6 linked regions of the Homo sapiens genome follow. The protein of the gene in region 6 purifies or fractionates together with the protein of the main gene of each other region. This does not show direct contact. Each region holds a gene or a part of one and is shown on either strand. Other genes may lie near its edges. The genes, in order: SLC25A16, SLC25A30, PCSK6, MTO1, OLFM2 and C4BPB.

Region 1 (2,513 bases), on a different chromosome or scaffold from region 6:
AAAAAAAAAAAAAAAAGAATGTAATGAGATATTATTAAACATATCCAGTAACTTCTCCACCTTCTACAGGTAATTACTGAAAACTAGGAGGTATACCTCACTTATCAATCTGGAAACCAGACCACTGTCCCATTCTACAGACCAGAGAGCTATACCCACTGAGAGGTGGAAGAGAGGAACAATAAAGATCAAAAAAGAAATAAAATGTCAGTCTTCAAATGGAAGATAACCTGGCAAGATGCACTTTGGGCAATCTGAAATAAATCAGATATAAACACAGTCATTATTTTAAATATTCTTCCATTCTGACTTATGTTTAGCATTTGTGCTTCAATATGTAAACAGTTGAAAGAAAGAAATTGTCAAAACATGGATAAAATTTATTTTTAATATCCTCTGTATTCTATAACATATAGAATGCAAATTTTTATTTAAAAGATATTTGCAATCCCCTTTTACTGATAACCTAACTGAGGTATCTTTTTTTTTTTTTTTTTTTTTTTTGAGATGGAGTCTTGCTCTGTCGCCCAGGTTAGAATGCAGTGGCACGATCTCGGCTCACTGCAAGCTCCGCCTCCCAGGTTCAAGTGATTCTCCTGTCTCAGCCTCCTGAGTAACTGGGACTACAGGTGCGTGCCACCACGCCCAGCTAATTTTTTGTATTTTTAGTAGAGATAGGTTTTCACCGTGTTAGCCACAATGGTCTCGATTTCCTGACCTCGTGATCCCCCCGCCTCAGCCTCCCAAAGTGCTGAGATTACAGGGGTGAGCCACCATGCCCGGCTCAATACTTATTTTATATACTTAAATTATCTTAACATTTAATAACAATAATTAGCTACAGTGTGGTCTAGAAATGAAAATATACAAATGGTTTTAAGAACACATGTATTTCTTTTTTTTTTCTTTTATACAGTCTCTGTATAAAAGAAATTTTTGTACAGCCTTTTTTTTTCTTTTATACAGTCTCACTCTGTATAAAAGAAATTTTTATACAGGCTTTTATACAGCCACCCAGGCTGGAGTGCAATGGCGCAATCTTGGCTCACTGCAACCTGTGCCTCCTGGGTTCAAGCAATTCTCCCTGCCTTAGCCTCCCAAGTAGCTGGGATTACAGGCGCCCGCCACCATGCCCGGCTGATTTTTGTATTTTTAGTAGAGACAGGGTTTCTCCACGTTGGCCAGTCTGGTCTTGAACTCCTGACCTCAGGTGATCCACTCGCCTTAGCCTCCCAAAATGCTGGGATTACAGGCGTGAGCCACCACATCTGGCCAAGAACACATGTATTTCTACCTACTGGTACACTTATAAATCATACAAAGATACATACTTATTTTTAAAATAAAGGCTTTCAAAATGAAACCAGCTCATCAAATTTTTACCAAGGTATGACAAGAAACCTTTTATGTAAAGAAATAAAAATTGAAGCAAAAATAACACTTTCAACTTAGTTTTCCTTCTTTTGTTTGAAAGAAACGGGGTCTCACTATGTTGCCCAGGCTGGTCTCGAACTCCTGGGGTCAAGATATCCTCCCGCCTCAGCCTCCCAAAGTGCTAGGGTTACAGGCAAGAGCCACCACGCCTGGACTCAACTTAGTTTTCTAATGTCTCCTTTTTTTTGAGATGGAGGCTCATTCTGTCACCCAGGCTGGAGTGCAGTGGTGTGATCTCAGCTCACTGCAACCTCCGCTTCCCGAGCTCAAGCAATTCTCATGTCTCAGCCTCGCGAGTAACTGGGACTACAGGCACGAGCCACCACACCTGCTACTTTTTGTATTTTTAGTAGAGGTGGGGTTTCACCATGCTGATCTTAAACTCCTGACTTCAGGTGATCCACCCAACTCGGCCTCCCAAAGTGCTGGGAATAAAGGCGTGAGCCACCACACCTGGCCTTCTAATGTCTTTAAAGTCACATCAAAGGGCCGGGCGCCGTGGCTCACGCCAGTAATCTCAGCACTTTGGGAGACCAAGGTGGGCAGATCATGAGGTTCAGGAGATCGAGGCCATCCTGGCTAACACGGTGAAATCCCGTCTCTACTAAAAATACAAAAATTAGCCAGGCGAATTTTTGGTGGTGGGCACCTGTAGTCCCAGCTACTCGGGAGACTGAGGCAGGAGAATCACTTGAACCCGGGAGGCAGAGGTTGCAGTGAGCTGAGATCGCGCCACTGCACTCCAGCCTGGGCGATAGAGCGAGACTCCATCTCAAAAAAAAAAAAAAAGTCACATCAGTTCTACAAATTACTCTTTCTGAACACAGAACTTTAAATATTCCCTTCCCATTTATGACACGCTTATAATAAATCATAAAAAGTACTCTAAACAGAATAAATGGAATTCTTACATTTTAAAACATTTTCTTAATATAAAGGATAACAATTCAAATCATATTTTACATTTCTACGTCTTCATATTGCACTAAAATTATTTTACATGGAAGAACTAGTTGATGCATCATAATACCTTAGAAACATTTTTTGATATTCACATCTATATTAATAAATATTTCACA
Region 2 (3,500 bases), on a different chromosome or scaffold from region 6:
GTGGATCCATGGCAGGGCTGTGGGTCACCAGTTTGTGCTGTGGTGTACTGGAGAAAATCAAGATGCTTAGCGTGACATGAGGCTGTCCACGTTCTGTTCCTGCAGGTATTCTGATATAGGTCTCACTCACTATCCAGTGCCTACAGAATACTGTTCATTAAATACTGAAAGACTGGAAAGTAGTTCACTGCAACTCTTATCAACATCATATAATTTTCATTATGGCAAAAACCTCCTTAATTCAGAATATCTAAGAAAAAGAGCTATTTTCAAAGCATGAAAAACCGAACAGAATGTTTTTAAACAAACATAATTTTTTATTGTTGTCTGTCTGTACTTGAATATAGTAAAACAGTTTCACCAAAACATCTGCTGCATAATATATATACTTAGAAATTAGAGTTGAAATTAAAAGTGAAAAATCTGTCATGCTATTTGTTCTTTTCAAACACACCTCAAACTTTTTACTTGTGATCTGTGCAGTCTTGGTCTGAAGTCTATACCCATGTGAAACAGTGAACAGTGACACAGAAATGCATGAAGGCCTACTCACCCCGAGTAGAGTGCTTTCAGCCCTTCTTCTCTGCCTATCCTCACTAATGCGTGCAACATTCCTCGGTATCTAATTTCCTTAAATTTTGCATCATTCGTCTGGCCTTGAATCTGGAGCCGTGTCTTGGTTAAATCAATTGGAAATGTACCTTAAAATTTAAAAAGAAATTCACTTAATAAAAAGAAATTCCACTAAATAAAGGATACGTAGTGATATATTACTGAGGAAACATTCAGACTACAATATAAACTAAGAAAGTGATTAAGAAATGGCACTTTGCAATCTTGTTTATATTTTTAAAAATTGAGGAATCAAAAGATTAATAAAACCCAAAAAATGCATAGATATATTTTCCTTTCTTTATCTTTTTATTTATACCTCATCTTATTCTACACAGGATTTGGGTAGGCTGCATTGTTGTAGAAAGCAAATACGTGGTATGATTTACCTAAACAGGAAATCCATTGAAAAACATAAGTTACTATTCTGTATATAAATGAAGGTTAAAATGGGGTTGAATGTGAACAAAGAGGTAAAAAAAGTTCATTTTCTAAAGTGGTTTTCCACTTGGGAGAGTGTTTTATAGTCTAAAATTAATCTGGCTAGGCACAGTGGCTCATGCCTGTAATCCCAGCACTTTGGGAGGCTGAGGTGGGCGGATCACCTGAGGTTAGGAGTTCCAAACCAACCTGGCCAACATGGTGAAACCCCGTCTCTACTAAAAATACAAAAATTAGCTGGGCGTGGTGGCAGGCACCTGTAACCCCAGCTACTCAGGAGGCTGAGGCAGGAGAATTGCTTGAACCCAGGAGGCAGAGGTTGCAGTGAGCCGAGATCACGTCACCATACTCCAGACAGGGTGACAGAGTGAGACTCTGTCTCCAAAATAAAATAAAATAAATCTGATAATGCAGATAAATATGTTAAATACTGTACCTAACAAATAGTCCACCCAAATATATAAAACCCATCCTCAGACAGTAACCTTGATTCACTGTGTCAATGGGAAAGCCCACCAGCACAGAGAGCCTAAGCTGGTGAGTGGGTGGTTACCACGGCTCATCCAGCTTACCCACCTTGGCCTCAATTCTCCCCAGTCCCACAGGGGCAGTATTCTATCCTTGGACAGCAGTGACTGAGCCCTGGAAGCAATGATGTGTCCCCAACCCAGCACAGGGCATTCAACAGCTGCTCAATCAGTGTTTGCTGAATGAATGACTCCAGAGAATAAACAAACAGGATCTGATGTGGAACCCAACCGATGAGGAAGTCACAAATGGGAACTGGATAATGTGCATCATCAGAAAGTGACTAGATAACTACAGTCCATCTCATCTGGCTCAGGGAACACCCTTGAGCTTCTCAAACCTCTTTACAGCCAAACAGGTTAACAGTGGCAAAGCTGGGGGAAAGGACAAGGAAAACGGACAGACACAATCCAAAAATGATTCATAAAACTTGTGTTTGAGGCTGAGCATGGTAATAATCCCAGTACTTTGGGAGGCCAAGGGAGGTGGATCTCTTGAGCTTGGGAGTCGAGACCAGCCTGGGCAACATGGCAAAACTCCATCTCTAATAAAAATATAAGAATTAGCCGGGCGTGGTCGTGCACATCTGTAGTCTCACCTATAATCCCAGCACTCTGGGAGGCCGAGGCAAGTGGATCTCTTGAGCTTGGGAGTCGAGACCAGCCTGGGCAACATGGCAAAACTCCATCTCTAATAAAAATACAAGAATTAGCCGGGCATGGTGGTGCACATCTGTAGTCTCACCTACTTGGGAGACCCGGGTGGGAGGACCGCTTGAGCACGGGAGGCGGAGGCTGGAGTGAGCCGAGATCAGACGACTGCACTCCAGCCTCAGCAACAGAACCAGACCCTGTCTCAAAACAAAAAATTTTAAAAAACTTGTGTTTGGTCAATAGGATCAACTTTCTCTCCACTAAACTTCGAACCCTAAACTGCTAATAGCAGCCAAAATGACTATTTTGTCTTAAAAAGCATTACCAAAAGAAAACTTTCTTTTTTTTGAGACTGGGTCTCACTCTGTCACCCAGGCTGGAGAGTGCAGTGGTTCACACATGGCTCACTGCAGCCTCGACCTCCTGGACTCAAGCAATCCTCCCACCTCTGCCTCCCGAGTAGCGGGGACTACAGGCCTGTGCCACCACACCTGGCTAATTTTTTTTTTTTTAATAGAGGTGAGGTTTCACTCTGTTGCCCAGGCTGGTGTCGAACTCCTGGACTCAAGAGATTCCCCTTCCTCAGCCTACTAAAGTGCTGAGATTATAGGCGTGAGCCACCACACCCAGCTAACAGACATTTTGAATTCTGAGACAAACATTTCATCATCTCACATTCTACACTTGAACTACATTCACATCAAACACCATCACATACAGCAGGCTACGTGATCCACCACCCTCAGGTCCTTACCGCACTCAGCAGTGATGGAGGCCAGCCCCCCGTACACAAACGGCTTCCAGTTGAGGGCTGACATTCTCACACTGTCTCTTCTTTGATTTATAGAAACATTGCCTCCAGTGCTGTTTTTCCTGGACACAACAATAAGATATTATCAAGCTGTAACTTCTCACACAGGCAGTTTCTTCTCCAAACTCTTCCCCTAGGTTTTATTTGGAGAGTGCTATCACCAAAACCCCTGCAGCAATTCCCAAGGGGAGCCTCCCCTTAATAAAGCAAAGCACCCCTATTTCCTCAACCTCAAATCAACAATTTCCAATCTTACTTTATCAGTGATCTTAATTTTTACTGTGACCTCAAGAAGTAATCAGCTACTTTGATACCTTGGTATGCGTGTATGTATTCAGTGTAGTGCAGCGGAAGCTGTTCTCTGGGAAGTCTATTTTATCTTAAATCTATTCTTCATGCAATAAGTATTTGCAGCAGCCATGATGGCTCACGCCTGTAATCCCAGCATTTTGAGA
Region 3 (3,500 bases), on a different chromosome or scaffold from region 6:
CAGTGGTCATACATTTTATGCCCTCAAACCTATCTTATTTATAGTCTGACCAAACCGTCCCCAGACTGCTCAGTGGCAGGCAACGAGCAGGTAGACTGCTGGCCCTTTGTCACATGTGAGGATGGCCCAGGGTTCGCCAGCTGGGCCGGGGAGATTTACTACACAGCCGCAGAAAAGCACGGGGAGAAGAGTGATGTGTGATGCCAAGCGCCTTTCTTTTCTGCTTTGGTCTTGAAGATTCAGTAAACTTATGGTCCCAGAAGCTGCTCCAAAGCCAGAGCTGTGGATTCCCAGAATTCATTTTGTTCCTGTTAGTTTGTCGGAAGACTGGAGCCAACAAGCAGCATTTGAGAGGATATCACCATTTTAGGAACACCTCCTTAAGAGCCACCACCCACCTGGCTTGGGTGCTCAGAGATGCTGCTCCTGGGGAGATAAAGCTGTCAGGTGCAGGGCGCCGCTCCTGAAACAGACTCTGGCCGACAGTCTGGAGGAAGGTGGACGGATGGATGGATGGGAGTGCCTGCCCTCTGTGGGCAGCTAGGCACCCTTACCCGGCCAGGAGGCACGTGCGGCAGCAGAACTGAATGAAGAGCTTCCGTTCGCACAGCCGGTTGGACTTCACCATCTCGCAGAATGTCTCGTCAGCTGGGGCCCCGCATCAGGAAAGGCAAAAGAGGGAAAGGTCAGTCTTCGGTGCCTGTGAAGATTGTTTCAAGGCCGGGCGCGGTGCCTCATGCCTGTAATCCCAGCACTTTGGGAGGCCGAGGTGGGTGGATCACCTGAGGTCAGGAGCTTGAGACCAGTCTAACCAACATGGTGAAACCCCGTCTCTACTAATAATATAAAAATTAGCTGGGCATGGTGGTGGGCACCTGTAATCCAAGCTACTCGGGAGGCTAAAGCAGGAGAACCACCTGAACCCAGGAGGCAGAGGTTGCAGTGAGCTGAGATCATGCCACTGCACTCCAGCCTGGGCAAGAAGAACAAAACTCCGTCTCAAAAATAAATAAATAAATACATAAATAAATATTGTTTCAATCATTCCACATATGCTGGGCATCAGTGGTGCCCTGGGCAAGAGGGACACAGACAGAGGTGGGCAGCAGGATGGCAGCCCTTGAAGCCCCTCTCCTGCAATGCACTTGACTCTGGGAGCCCTGTGTGGCGGGAGGGCACTGGTATATGGGGCTCTTGCTGAGTCTCAGTGACAAGGGGATTCATGAGCAGGATGTGGGGGTGGTGTGGGAGGGATCTCAGGAGAACACCCAGCCTGGGCCTGTGGGGCACATGTGCACCTGTCTTTCTGGACAACTGCTGGCAGTGGAGCTTAGGAGGAAGACTGTAGGGGAGGCCGGAGGACGGGCCTGGAGGCAGGAGGGAATGGAAGCTGCTTCCAGGGTGGAGGGGGCGGACAGGGAGGAGTGGGGATGGGGGGAAGGGAGCCGCCGTGGACAGGACTTGCTGAGGACACCGCTGCAGCAAGGGGAAGAGGCCTTTGAGGATGCATCATCCGTGGACCTGGGAGGCCCTCCAGTGGCAACCACACTTTTTTGGGCTAGATACATAACCTGGGCAGGTGACTTCCCAAAGAAGTAGTTTCTGGGCCTTTGAAGGGACATAATTAGACAACCCTCCCGCCACCCCCCAAAAATAATAACCAGTAACAAGGCAAGGAGGCATCCCAGGGCCCTCCACAAGCTCCATGCTCTGCCTGGACAGGGCCAGTGCCAGCTTCATACCCAAGGACCACCTGCCCTGACCCTGGACACTGGAGCAGAGAGCCTTCCTCTCCTGGCTGTCAGAATGTGGCTCCACCCTGCTGCTTGCTGGGCCAGAGCCCCCTTCCCTGCCCGTGTGTCTACAATGACTCCTGCACTGCACCTCCAGGCCCGAGTCCTGCCAACCCTCCTTGGTGCCTGGAATTCCCAAACTGGGCACTTAGCTTTGGTGCCCTTTTAAGTTTCTGTTTTTACAACTTGTCCTTGTCCCCCATCCTATGGCAGAGCCAGGGCTCTCCTGCAGCACAGATGCAGGTCCATGCTGGATCCCTGCAGAGCTGGGATTGCTGCTGCTGAGCGTGTGCTCTACTCTGGGCTCTGTCCCCCTCGTCCTGAGCAGAGACCCTCCAGGCTTCCTGGCTTTGACCCCCCAGGTCAGGCTTCTTTTATGGTATGTCGTCACATCCGGGCCACCGGCGGCCTATGGCATGGCAGTGGGACCAGTACAAGGACAAAATCATTTTTAGGAGTCACTCAATAAACAGATCAGCAGTGGCTGGGATGCCTCTCTGATCGATGTGAGAGGCCTAGAGGGAAGCTGGGAGACAGGGCAGCTGTCTTCCATATCAGCTAGAGGAATCCCAGACAGTCAATCGGATCAGGGGCACGAACGCCTGTCTGTGGAGCCGCCATGCCTATGTGGCTTTGCTTTTCTCTTTGGAGCACGAGCTGGCCAGCTGAGCTCCTCCACAGGCAGCCCCAGGGTAACCCAGCTGCTGCTCACCGTTGCTGCACGTGTGGTTGGTGATGCAGGAGGTCCCCAGCTGTGTGAAGCCCGTCTTACACCTGCTACAGTTCCTGCTGGAGCCTGCACAGCTCAAGCAGTTCTCGTCACACCTGTGGGAAGATACCGTTCCTGCTGAAGTCTGGGGAAGAGGCTCCACCACTCCGGGCTCCCTTCCCAGAACCCTCACCTCCCTGCACCTCCTTCCCACCCCCTCAGCCTCGGTCCTCTGTGGAGAGGCTGTGTCGCCCACCATTCCCTGACACAGGGGCTGAGTGTCTGCATGTCTTTTCTCCTGTCTGACCTCACTATTGCCCTGGGAGGGCAGAGACAGCCATGGCCAGTTGGCAGGAGCAAGCCCAGGATCAGGGGCCAGGCCTCCGAGGCTTCCCGCAGCTCACCTGGACACCCTCCTGGGCCCTGGCACCCAGCCCCCACCCCACCACACGGCTCCCAGAGCTGTGTCAGTCTTCTCTCTCCAGCGGCTGCCGGGCTGCGATGGCTGTAGGCTTGGGGTCCAGGCCAGACTCCACCCAGGGATGTGACACACCTGACTCGAGCTGACCAGAAGGCTGCTGTCACCTATATGTGGCCATGCCTGCTTACCCTCGGGGAGTGGGAGAGATGCCCCACAATTCCTGCCCCTCTCGGACGGTCCTGGCCCAGCCTGCGCAGAGATGGACACCAGCCAGGGCTATTTCTAATGCAGGGTAAACGTGACCTCAGGGGACGGTTGGTGCACTACAGCCCAAGGGCCACATCCAGCATTTATCCTGGACCACAGTCACACTCATTCATTGACAATCTTTTGTGTAGCAGTGGCTGAGCTGAGTAGCTGTGACAGAGGCAGTGTGGCCCCAAAAGCCTGAACGACTGACCATTGTGCCCTCTACAGAAAGCACTTGCCGATGCGGGCCGAGTGCTTGAAGGAGCACGTTTCCCATCCTGGGGCCGTGAGTGCACCCCGGCTATGCTGCTGCCTGTCCTGAGTCCAG
Region 4 (3,500 bases), on a different chromosome or scaffold from region 6:
AATCCCAGCACTTTGAGAGGCTGAGGTGGGCGGATGGCTTGAGCTCAGGAGTACGAGACCAGCCTGGGCAATATGGCGAGACCCTGTCTCTATTAAAAATAATAATAAATGAAAAAATTTTTTAAAATAAAAGCTTAATTTACAAAATATGTAAGGTTATAAAAGTAATGAAATTTAAGATTTGCCAGGCACGGTGGCTCACGCCTGTAATGCTAGCACTTTGGGAGGCTGAGGAGGGTGGATTACCTAAGGTAAGGAGTTTGAAACCAGCCCGGCCAACATGGCAAAACACCGTCTCTATTAAAAATACAAAAATTAGCCAGTGTGGCGGCAGGAGCCTGTAATCCCAGCTACTCAGGAGGCTGAGGCAGGAGAATTGCTTGAACCTGGGAGGCGGAGGTTGCAGTAAGCCGAGATTGCGCCATTGCACTCCAGCCTGGGCAACAATGGCGAAACTCCGTCTCAAAAAAAGAAAAAAAAAAAAGTCGGGTGCAGTGGCTCACATCTGTAATCCCAGCACCAGCACTTTGGGAGGTTGAGGCAGGCGGATCACCTAAGGTCAGGAGTTCAAAACCAGCCTGGCCAACATGGTGAAACCCCGTCTCTACAAAACTATAAAAATTAGCCAGGCATGATGGCGGGTGCTTGCAATCCCAGCTACTAGGGAGGCTGAGGTGGGAGAATCGCTTGAACCCAGGATGCGGAAGTTGCAGTGCACCAAGATTTCACCATTGCGCTCCAGCAGGGCGACAGACTGAGACTGTCTCAAAAAAACAAAAAAAAGAAATTTACGATTTATGGGGAAATACCCAATTAGCCAAGTTAGCTAATCCCTTTTAGAGATTACTTCTTTAGGCTGAGTGCAGTGGCTGACGCCTATAATCCCAGCACTTTGAGAGGCTGAAATGGGTGGATCACGAGGTCAGGAGTTCGAGACCAGCCTGGCCAATATGGTGAAACACTGTCTCTATTAAAAATATAAAAATTAGCCGGGTGTGGTGGCGCGTGCCTGTATACTCGGGAGGCTGAGGCAGAAGAACTGCTTGAACCCAGGAGGCAGACGTTGCAGTGAGCTGAGATCGTGCCACTGCTCTCCAGTCTGGGTGACAGAGCAAGTCTCCACCACAAAAAAAAAAAAGGATAACTTCTTTGGCTGGGTTCGGTGGTTTACACCTGCAATCCCAGCACTTTGGGAGGCCAAGGGGGGTGGATCCTTTGAGCCCAGGAGTTCGAGACCAGCCTGGGCAACATAGTGAAACCCCATTTCTCAAAAAAATTTTAAAAAGCCAGGCACAATGGCTCATGCCTATGGTCTCAGCTACTCAAGGGGGTTGAGGTGGGAGGATCACTTGAGCCCAGGAGGTCAAGGCTGTAGTGACCCATAATTGTACCACTGCACTCCAGCCTGGGTGACAAGGTGAGACCTTATCTCAAAAAAAAAAAAAAAAAATCATTTCTTTGCACTATAAGCAATAGTGCTATAAAGTGAACTGCTGCCAAAAAAAAAAAAAAAAAGTTACAGTACTTCCTGCTGTGAATAGCCAATACCAGCTGTAAGCCAGGTTTTCGTAAAGTATCTTACCTTAATCCATACTGTCTCATTGGTAAAGCTGAATGGTATGGATGGATTGTCCGGTATATGCTTGTTTAGAATACTGAAATTAATGGACTCTTTGGCAATTCGGGGTGGAGTCCCAGTCTTCAACCTTCCCACCACAAACCCTAACTTCTCCAGTGTCTGAGCCAATCCTATAGAAGGCTGATCCCCTAAACGTCCTGCTGGATGCGTCTCCAATCCAATTACAATCATGCCTCTCAGAAATGTCCCAGTAGTCAGAATCACACTCTCTGCATATACTGTGCTTCCATCCACTAAATAACAAGAAAAAAGAATAAAGTCATTATCTATGTATCTATGTATTTATGTATCTATGTATCTATCTATCTATCTATCTATCTGAGATGAAGTCTCACTCTATCGCCAGGCTGGAGGGCAGTGGTGCAATGTCCGCTCACTGCAACCTCCGCCTCCCGGGTTCAAGCAATTCTCCTGCCTCAGCCTCCCGAGTAGCTGAGATTACAGGCATGCGCCACCACGCTCAGCTAGTTTTATATTTTTAGTAGAGATGGGGTTTCTCCATGTTGGTCAGGCTGGTCTCGAATTCCCGACCTCAGGTGATCCACCCACCTCTGCCTCCCAAAGCGCTGGGATTACTTACAGGCGTGAGCCACCGCGCCCGGCCTAAAGTCATTTTTTAAATTGTTACCATGGATCAAAATGGAATGTGACTATTTTACATTACAACTACAGAAAAACTATCAGTCTTTAAAAACTTGAGAATCTTTTTTAATATTTTTGTTTTTTCAAGACTTATCGACATATAACAGACATATAAAAAACTGTATATATTTAGAGTATGCAACATGGTGTTTTGATACAAGTATACCTTCTGTGATGATACCCATAATCAAGCTAATTAATATAACCATCACCTCACATAGTTACACGTTTTGTGTGGTGAGAACACTTATGATCTACTCCCTTAGCAAATTTCAAGTATATCATACATTATTATTAACTGCAGTTACCATACTGCTCACTAGATTGCTAGAACTTATTCAACTTACAGCTGAAAATGTATAACCTTTGAGCAGTATCTTCCCATTTCCCCTACCCCAGACAAAGAATTTTAAATGAGTAAGAAGGCTAATATGTTATCAATCTCAATCTAAGCAATCTAGGAGAGAGAATACAATGTGTTATCACCAATTCACATGTACCTAAAATCATATCAGCACTAAAAAGTTAGTCTCAATTAATTTAAAAAATTAATTAATTTTAGACTTCAGGATAAATATGGCATACAACCTCTCATTTCTTCTCCCTTCTAAAACTCAAAGAAAATTAAATAGGGGAATAAAAAAGGTATAAAACCAAAAGGACAAGTAATGAAAAAGAACCAGTCAGAAGATGAGAAATTTCAATGTATTTTTGAAAGATAGAAAGTGTTTGGAAGAATGGTAACTCATCTAGCAGAGGGGAGATAGCTATAACTTAAGTATTAATATCTGAAGAGAAGATATATCAATGAGAATGAACTAATTTGCCCTGCAAAGGCTCAGAAATTAGAGAACTGAGAATAAGAACTGAGGAGGAATGTAGAAATGAAACTTGGAACAGAAAATGAAAGAAACAGCTGAAATTTACACATTAAGGTTTTGTCCTCAGATAGCTCTACCTTACAGTAAAATGGAGGTTTATTCTTCAGGTAATGGGGACTTTTTGTTTAATGGGTACAGAATTTTAATTTGGGATGATGAAAAAGTTCAAGAGACCGTTGGTGGTGATGGGTGCACAACACTGTCAATGTACTTAATAGCACTGAATTGTACACTTAAAAATGGTTAAAATGGTACATTTTATGGTTTGTATATTTTACCACAAAAAAATTGTTATTGTTGGGCCTATAAAATATGGACAGGATCACAAAATAGCATTT
Region 5 (3,500 bases), on a different chromosome or scaffold from region 6:
GCAACAAGAGCGAAACTCCATCTCAAAAAAAAAAAGAAAGAAAGAAAGAAATCCACACATACCATATGGTTGGCCTACATGGATACAGTCACTGGTGTGATGATGATACAAGCATGTCCCTGTGCTCATGGTCCCTGAACATGCACACAGTCACCAAACATACACATACACGCATGACACCACAGACACATGCCTATGGGGCCAAAGTTAGAGTGAGGCAAGTTATGCAAGTGCAGAGGGGGAGCCCATATTTATTTAAAAATTTGTTTTTATTCATTATAGATTTTTCTTGCATCAATTTAGATTTTTCTTAAAATGTTCCATTAAAATATTATTTATCTTGGTTACTGGTTTTTATTTTTTTGGGGGGCATACCCTTAAATTTTGTACTATAGCTGAACTCTGTACCATGTACCTGTCACCCTAGCTACTCAGGAGGCTGAGGCAGAAGAATCACTTGAGCCCAGGAGTTGGAGGCTTCAGTGAGCTATGACTGCACCACTGCACTCCAGCATGGGTGACAGAACAAGACCCCGTCTTAGAAATAGGCCCGGCACCGTGGCTCACGCCTGTAATCCCAGCACTTTGGGAGGCCAAGGCGGGCAGATCATCTGAGGTCTGGAGTTCGAGACCAGAGTGGGCAACGTGGTGAAACCCTGTCTCTATTAAAAATACAAAAAAAAAAAAATTTAGCCGGCTGTGGTGCTGTGCGCCTATAATCCCAGCTACTCGAGAGGCTGAGCAGGAGAATCGCTTGAACCCGGGAGGCAGAGATTGCAGTGAGCCGAAATCGCACCACTGCACTCCAGTGTGGACGACACAGCAAGACTCTGTTTCAAATATCATCATCATCATCATCATCAACTTTTTAAAATGTTTGCACCCGCGGCGAGTATCTCACCTGTTTTACCCTGACCTGGGCACCCCCATCCCACATACGCACGCGCCCACGCACAGGTGCACAACCACACACATTCACCCACCAGTCACACAGACGCACACAGTCCCTGCACAAACCTCACTCGACCACTAGATGTCGCTCAAGCTCCATAATCTTAAATCCAGCCCCAAGGGGCTCTTTCCTACACTAACTCGGAGTCTTTAAATTTCCTTTTACTTCCCTCCACTGGGACATTTACATGCTCTAAAGGAGCCCCAGGAGAACATCGTCTTACCCCTAAACAACAGTGCCCTATCGGTGGAATGTCAGGCACAGGTAAAGAAGATGGGTTTTCTTTCTTTCTTTTTTGTGGAGACAGGGTCTCAGTCTGTCGCCCAAGCTGGAGTGCAGTAGTGCAATGATAGCTCACTGCAGCCTCAAACTCCTGGGCTCAAGTGATCTTCACACCTCAGCCTCCTGAGTAGAACTACAAGCCTGGCCAATTTTTTTTAAAGTTACTGCAGAGGCCGGGCACGGTGGCTCACGCCTGTAATCCCAGCAGTTTAGGAGGCCGAGGCAGACAAATCAAGATGTCAGGAGTTCGAGACCAGCCTGGCCAAAATGGTGAAACCCCATCTCTACTAAAAATACAAAAATTAGCTGGGTGTGGTGGCACGCCCCTGTAGTCCCAGCTACTCGGGAGGCTGAGGCACTAGAATCTCTTGAGCCCGGGAGGCAGAGGTTGCAGTGAGCTGAGATCATCACAATACTGTACTGTACTCCAGCATGGGTGACAGAACAAGACTCCATCTCAAAAATAAAAAAAAAAAAAGAAATAAAAAGAAAAAGTTATTGTAGAGATGGGATCTTGCTGTATTGCCCAGGCTGGTCTCAAATTCCTGGCCTCAAGAGACCCTCTGGCTTTGGTCTCCCAAAATGCTGGGATCATAGGTATCAGCCATCACACCTGGCCTGAAGAATGGATTTTCTTGGTGCCTTCCATCCAGGAGCGAGTGTTCCCCTGACACTCTCTTGATAAAAGAATCCTGTGGTTTGAGAAAGAAAGACACTCTGTGTGTGTGAGGGGGTCCATCCATCCATCCATTCATCCATTCAGCAGATATTTCTTGAGCACCTACTGTGTGTCAGGCTCTGCTCTAGACACTGGAGAAACAACAAAGCTAGCTGAACCCTGATAAACTGCCGCTCTAGTGGGGAAACAGAGAATGAATGAATAGAAGAATCATAGAAATGTGGAAACGAGGGCTATAAAGAAAAATATGGCCGGGCGTGGTGGCTCATGCCTATAATCCCAGCACTTTGGGCGGCAGATCACCTGAGGTCAGGAGTTCAAGACCAGCCTGGCCAACATGGTGAAACCCTGTCTCTACTAAAAATACAACAAAAACTAGCTGGGCATCAGGTGGCACGTGCCTGTAGTCCCAGCTACTCGGGAGGCTGAGGCACGAGAATCACTTGAACCGGTGAGGCAAAGCTTGCAGTGAGCCGAGATTGCGCCACTGCACTCCAGCCCAGGCAACAGAGTGAGACTCAGTCTCAAAAAAAAAAAAAAAAAGAAAGAAAGAGAGAGAAAGAAAAAGAACACGGAGTAAGCACTCAGAGAGTGGCAGCAGGGGGCTATTTCACTTAGCTGTTCAGGGTGAGCCTCTTGGAGGAGGTGACATTTAAGCAGAAATCAGAGATAAATAGCTACCAGGGGGAACAGTGTCACAGGCAGAGGGAACAGCAAGTGTGAAGTCCCTGAGGCACGTGATCTAAACTGAATTATTCCTTCTCCCCATCCTCTGAAAGCCCCAGGAAAGAGTTGGTCCCAAACCCAGATAGTGCCAACGATGTAGCTAGATCTTAGGGAGGCCTTCGCAGGGATCAGGAAGGCATCTTTTCCACAAGGAAAATAGTGGGGCTCAGAACTGTCAAGCTCTCTGGTAGTCACTCCCAGGCCAGAACCCAGAACATCTTGGATAGATCCTGGATGAATGGACAATGCCTCTGACAGGCCCTGCTTTCCTGTTCTCCTGCTCTCTGGGTCAAATCCAAACTTCTGCCCACAGCTTACAAGTTCCTAAGTGGTCTGGCTTCCCCGGCCTCATCTCCCCGCGACCTCTCCAGCCACACCAGCGTCCACACTGCTTCTGAAACTCACCAAGCTTGTTCTTACCCCAGGGCCTTTGCACCTTCTGTTCCTCCCACCTTCAATGCTCTTCCCCCAGACACCCACAAGGCTCCCTCTCTCACCTCCTTCAGATGTCACCTGAAACACTACTTCCTTAGAGACACCTTCCCTGACCACACTGGCTCAAATAGCCCCCACCTTGTAATCTTTTTCTGTTTTTTTGCTTTGAGACAGTCTTGTTCTGTTGCCTAGGCTGGAGTGCAGTGGCATGACCTTGGCTCACTGGAACCTCTGCCTCCCAGGTTCAAGCAATTCGCCTGCCTCAGCCTCCTGAATAGCTGGGACTACAGGTGTGCAACACCACACCTGGCTAATTTTTTGCATTTTTAGTAGAGACGGGGTTTCACCATGTTGGCCGGGCTGGTCTCAAACTCCTGACCTCAAGTGATCCACTCACCCTGGCCTCCCAAAGTGCTGGGATTACAG
Region 6 (3,500 bases):
TTGCTCTGTTTCCCAGGCTGGAGTGCAGTGGCAGAATCTTGGCTCACTGCAACCTCCACCTCCCAGGTTCAAGCAGTTCTCATGCCTCAGCCTCCCAAGTAGCTGGGATTACAGGTGCGCACCCACGCTGGGCTAATTTTTGTATTTTTAGTAGAGACTGGGTTTCACCATGTTGGCCAGGCTGGTCTCAAATTCCTGACCTCAGGTGATCCACCCCCTTCAGCCTCCCAAAGTGCTGGGATTACAGGTGTGAGCCACTGCTCCCACCTTCTCCCCTTTTTCTGATACTCTCTTTGATATAGTTTGGATGTGTGTTCCTGCTCAAATCTCATATTGAATTGTAATCTCCAGTGTTGGAGGTGGTGCTTGGTGGGAGGTGACTGGATCATGCGGGTGGATTTCTCATGAATGGTCTAGCACCATCTCCCTAGGTACTGTCCTCATGACAGCGAGTGAGTTCTCATGAGATCTGGTTGTTTAAAAGTGTGTAACGCCTCCTCCCTCTCTCGTTCCTGCACCTGTTATGTGAGATGCCTCCCTCCCCCTTTGCCTTCTGCCATGATTGTAAGTTTTCCGAGGCCTCCCCAGAAGCCGAGCAGATGCCAGCACCATGTTTCCTGTACAGCCTGCAGAACTGTGAGCCAATTAAACCTCTTTTCTTTATAAATTACCCAGTCTCAGGTATTTCTGTATCACAATGTGAGATGGACTAATACACTCATGTTTCACAACTCTTATCCACAGGGGATGTCAGCTTCCACTTGAGCTCACACGCTTCATCTCCTCTCTCAGGGAGTTATTTCTTCAGCCTTCACCTATGGCCCAATTTTTCTTTTCTTGTACATTAACAATTAGCTTCTCTACAACTTAAAATTTCTTTCCTTGAGCTCCTGCTGTCAGATAATACTCCCAAATCCCTACTAACTCAGAAGATGGGCTGGGGGAAAGCTCTTTCCCATGGACAAATATGATTTAGAAGAGAAGGAAATGAATGAAGAACAGGTTTCCAGATCCCGCAGGTGTTGCTGTGAGGATGTCAGGTGCTGGCGCAGGTGTTGCTCTGAGGCTGTCAGGTGCTGGCATAAACAGCTGCAATTAGGGGTGCTGTTCATTGAGCGTGCCTGGCCCTCATAACTATGACTTCTATACTCGTTTCTCTCAGGGGACTGTGACCCTCCTGGGAATCCAGTTCATGGCTATTTTGAAGGAAATAACTTCACCTTAGGATCCACCATTAGTTATTACTGTGAAGACAGGTAAGTGAACACAGCCTGTCAAATGCCAGATCTTGCCCCTTGGCAGCATTGTTTTGGGGAATAACCCAGTCTGTGTCCACCTGGTCATCTGATTTCCTACTGCTGCAGGATTCTAAGCTCATTCTGATTTTGAGAGCTGCTTTGGCCCTCTGCTAGCTCTCCTCAATCCCTAGAAGACAGACTGATCCTACTAAAGTATCCTACTTACCCCAATGCAAGTATCTCTTTTTCCTCTCCGCCAAGACAAGATAAATTATTTAAAATGAATGGATTTGGCTGGGCGTGATGGCTCACACCTGTAATCCCAGCACTTTGGGATGCTAAGGCAGGCGGTTTGCTTGAGGCCAGGAGATCAAGACCAGCCTGGCCAACATGGCAAAACCCTTGTCTCTACTAAAAATACAAAAATTAGCTGGGCGTGGTGGCACACTCCTGTAATCCCAGCTACTCAGGAGGCTGAGGCATGAGAATCGCTTGAACCCAGGAGGCGGAGGTTGCAGTGAGCCTAGATGGCACCACTGCACTTTAACCCAGGTGGAAAAGTGATACTCTGTTTTAAAATAAATAAATAAATAAAATGTATGGGTTTTTTGTTTTTTTGTTGTTGTTATTTTTGAGACAGTGTCTCCCTCTGTCACCCAGGCTGGAGTGCAGTGGTGTACTCATAGCTCACTGCAACCTCTGCCTCCTAGGCTCACGAGATCCTCCCACCTCAGCCTCTCTAATAGCTGGGACTACAGGCATGGGTCACCACGCTTGGCTAATTTTTTAAGGTTTTGTAGAGACAGGGTCTCCCTATGTTGCTCAGGCTGGTCTTGAACTCCTGAGCTCAAGTGATCCTCCCACCTTGGTTTCCCAAAGTCCTGGAAAGTGCTGGAATTACAAACATGAATCACTGTGCCTGGCCTAAAATGTATGTTTTTCTAAAAAAAAAAAAAAAAAAAAATCAGAGAATATAAATACTAAAAAACAAACATAGAAGTGCAGAAATATAAAGACTTAGTGTATAGACCCTTAAAGCCCCCTAATTAACTCAGAGTCATGTGGCCTCACTGGCATTTCGATCTCGTTATATACCTTCAATGCACTTTGCAGGCAACTCTCATATTTTTCTGATGAAAAGCAATTGCTCCTTTTTAGCCCCTTCGCTAAGATTTATTTGCAGGTGTCTCTCATTTTCTACTCCTTTTTAGAGCTTAGATGCCAGATGCCTTTTTAGGTTATTGAATGATAAAGTGCTTCTATCACTCTCCCCACCCAAAACCTGGGTGTGTAAACACCTGATTCAGAATTTCTCACTTCTCTATGTTTTATGGGTTGACTCATCACTTGGGTCCTCTCCTACCTCCAGGAAAATGGTTTTACTTTGAACTGCTTTGTAATACCGAGATAACTTAAGCATGCATTGAGGCTCAAGGGCAGGGAGGTGGATTCCATCACAGCATGAAATACTGAAATACAACTACACAAAACCAGTCTCCATTACCCAATTCAGAAAGTGGAAAAGCTAAGCCTTGTTCTAATTTCTGTTCAGGTACTACTTAGTGGGCGTGCAGGAGCAGCAATGCGTTGATGGGGAGTGGAGCAGTGCACTTCCAGTCTGCAAGTTGATCCAGGAAGCTCCCAAACCAGAGTGTGAGAAGGCACTTGTAAGTAGGAGGCTCATATCTGTCTTGTTCACAGCTGGATCTCCAGGGCCTGGCATCACTCCTGGCATATGCTCAGTATATATCTGTTTAATGTGGGACATTTTGCTTTTGAATGGGTTGGCCTTGGCCTGGCTGTAGAAGGGACTCATAAACTATTAACTCACATTTTTATAAATGGAAGTTGGAAGTTCCCATTCACTACCATCATCACAAATACCTCATGAGACCCTGTTGGTAGAAGTTGTTGTCTCATGTGCCTTATAGAGCAGTGGTTCCCAACCTTTTTGGCACCAGGGATGGGTATCATGGAAGATGACTTTTCCACGGATGGGGGTGGGGAGAGTGGGGATGGTTTGGGGATGATTCAGATGCATTACATTTATTGTGTACTTTATTTCTATTATTATTACATTGTAATATATAATAAAATGATTATATAACTCACCATAATGTAGAATCAGTGGGAGCCCTGAGCTTGTTTTCCTGCAACTAGAGGGTCCCATCTAGTTAGGAGTGATGGGAAACTGACAGATTATCAGGCATTAGATTCTCATCTGGGAGTGTTGGGAAACAGTGACAGATCATCAGGCATTAG

What was found.
Region 1: the proteins of C4BPB (region 6) and SLC25A16 purify together in Homo sapiens (affinity purification with mass spectrometry, with the first as the bait; one large-scale study listed by BioGRID). This does not show direct contact.
Region 2: the proteins of C4BPB (region 6) and SLC25A30 purify together in Homo sapiens (affinity purification with mass spectrometry, with the first as the bait; one large-scale study listed by BioGRID). This does not show direct contact.
Region 3: the proteins of C4BPB (region 6) and PCSK6 purify together in Homo sapiens (affinity purification with mass spectrometry; one large-scale study listed by BioGRID and IntAct). This does not show direct contact.
Region 4: the proteins of C4BPB (region 6) and MTO1 purify together in Homo sapiens (affinity purification with mass spectrometry, with the first as the bait; one large-scale study listed by BioGRID). This does not show direct contact.
Region 5: the proteins of C4BPB (region 6) and OLFM2 purify together in Homo sapiens (affinity purification with mass spectrometry; one large-scale study listed by BioGRID and IntAct). This does not show direct contact.

Annotation. Positions count from the first base shown.
Region 1 is NC_000010.11:68,480,011-68,482,523, forward strand, and holds part of SLC25A16 (solute carrier family 25 member 16), read right to left. Parts: 3' UTR 1-2,513. UniProt on the Homo sapiens protein: May be involved in the transport of coenzyme A in the mitochondrial matrix. Very little is known about the physiological function of this carrier.
Region 2 is NC_000013.11:45,408,374-45,411,873, forward strand, and holds part of SLC25A30 (kidney mitochondrial carrier protein 1), read right to left. Parts: exon of another isoform or gene 3,360-3,500; intron 3,108-3,359; 5' UTR 3,053-3,107; coding exon 2,989-3,052; intron 702-2,988; coding exon 554-701; intron 1-553. UniProt on the Homo sapiens protein: Antiporter that transports inorganic anions (sulfate, sulfite, thiosulfate and phosphate) and, to a lesser extent, a variety of dicarboxylates (e.g. malonate, malate and citramalate) and, even more so, aspartate.
Region 3 is NC_000015.10:101,304,708-101,308,207, forward strand, and holds part of PCSK6 (proprotein convertase subtilisin/kexin type 6 isoform PACE4-AI preproprotein), read right to left. Parts: exon of another isoform or gene 2,619-3,500; coding exon 2,506-2,618; intron 1,031-2,505; exon of another isoform or gene 649-1,030; coding exon 551-648; 3' UTR 1-550. UniProt on the Homo sapiens protein: Serine endoprotease that processes various proproteins by cleavage at paired basic amino acids, recognizing the RXXX[KR]R consensus motif.
Region 4 is NC_000006.12:73,471,737-73,475,236, reverse strand, and holds part of MTO1 (5-taurinomethyluridine-[tRNA] synthase subunit MTO1, mitochondrial), read right to left. Parts: intron 1,873-3,500; coding exon 1,583-1,872; intron 1-1,582. UniProt on the Homo sapiens protein: Component of the GTPBP3-MTO1 complex that catalyzes the 5-taurinomethyluridine (taum(5)U) modification at the 34th wobble position (U34) of mitochondrial tRNAs (mt-tRNAs), which plays a role in mt-tRNA decoding and mitochondrial translation.
Region 5 is NC_000019.10:9,930,016-9,933,515, forward strand, and holds part of OLFM2 (noelin-2 isoform 2 precursor), read right to left. Parts: intron 1-3,500. UniProt on the Homo sapiens protein: Involved in transforming growth factor beta (TGF-beta)-induced smooth muscle differentiation.
Region 6 is NC_000001.11:207,095,360-207,098,859, forward strand, and holds part of C4BPB (C4b-binding protein beta chain isoform 1 precursor), read left to right. Parts: coding exon of another isoform or gene 1-209; exon of another isoform or gene 210-670; intron 671-1,162; coding exon 1,163-1,256; intron 1,257-2,790; coding exon 2,791-2,905; intron 2,906-3,500. UniProt on the Homo sapiens protein: Controls the classical pathway of complement activation. It binds as a cofactor to C3b/C4b inactivator (C3bINA), which then hydrolyzes the complement fragment C4b.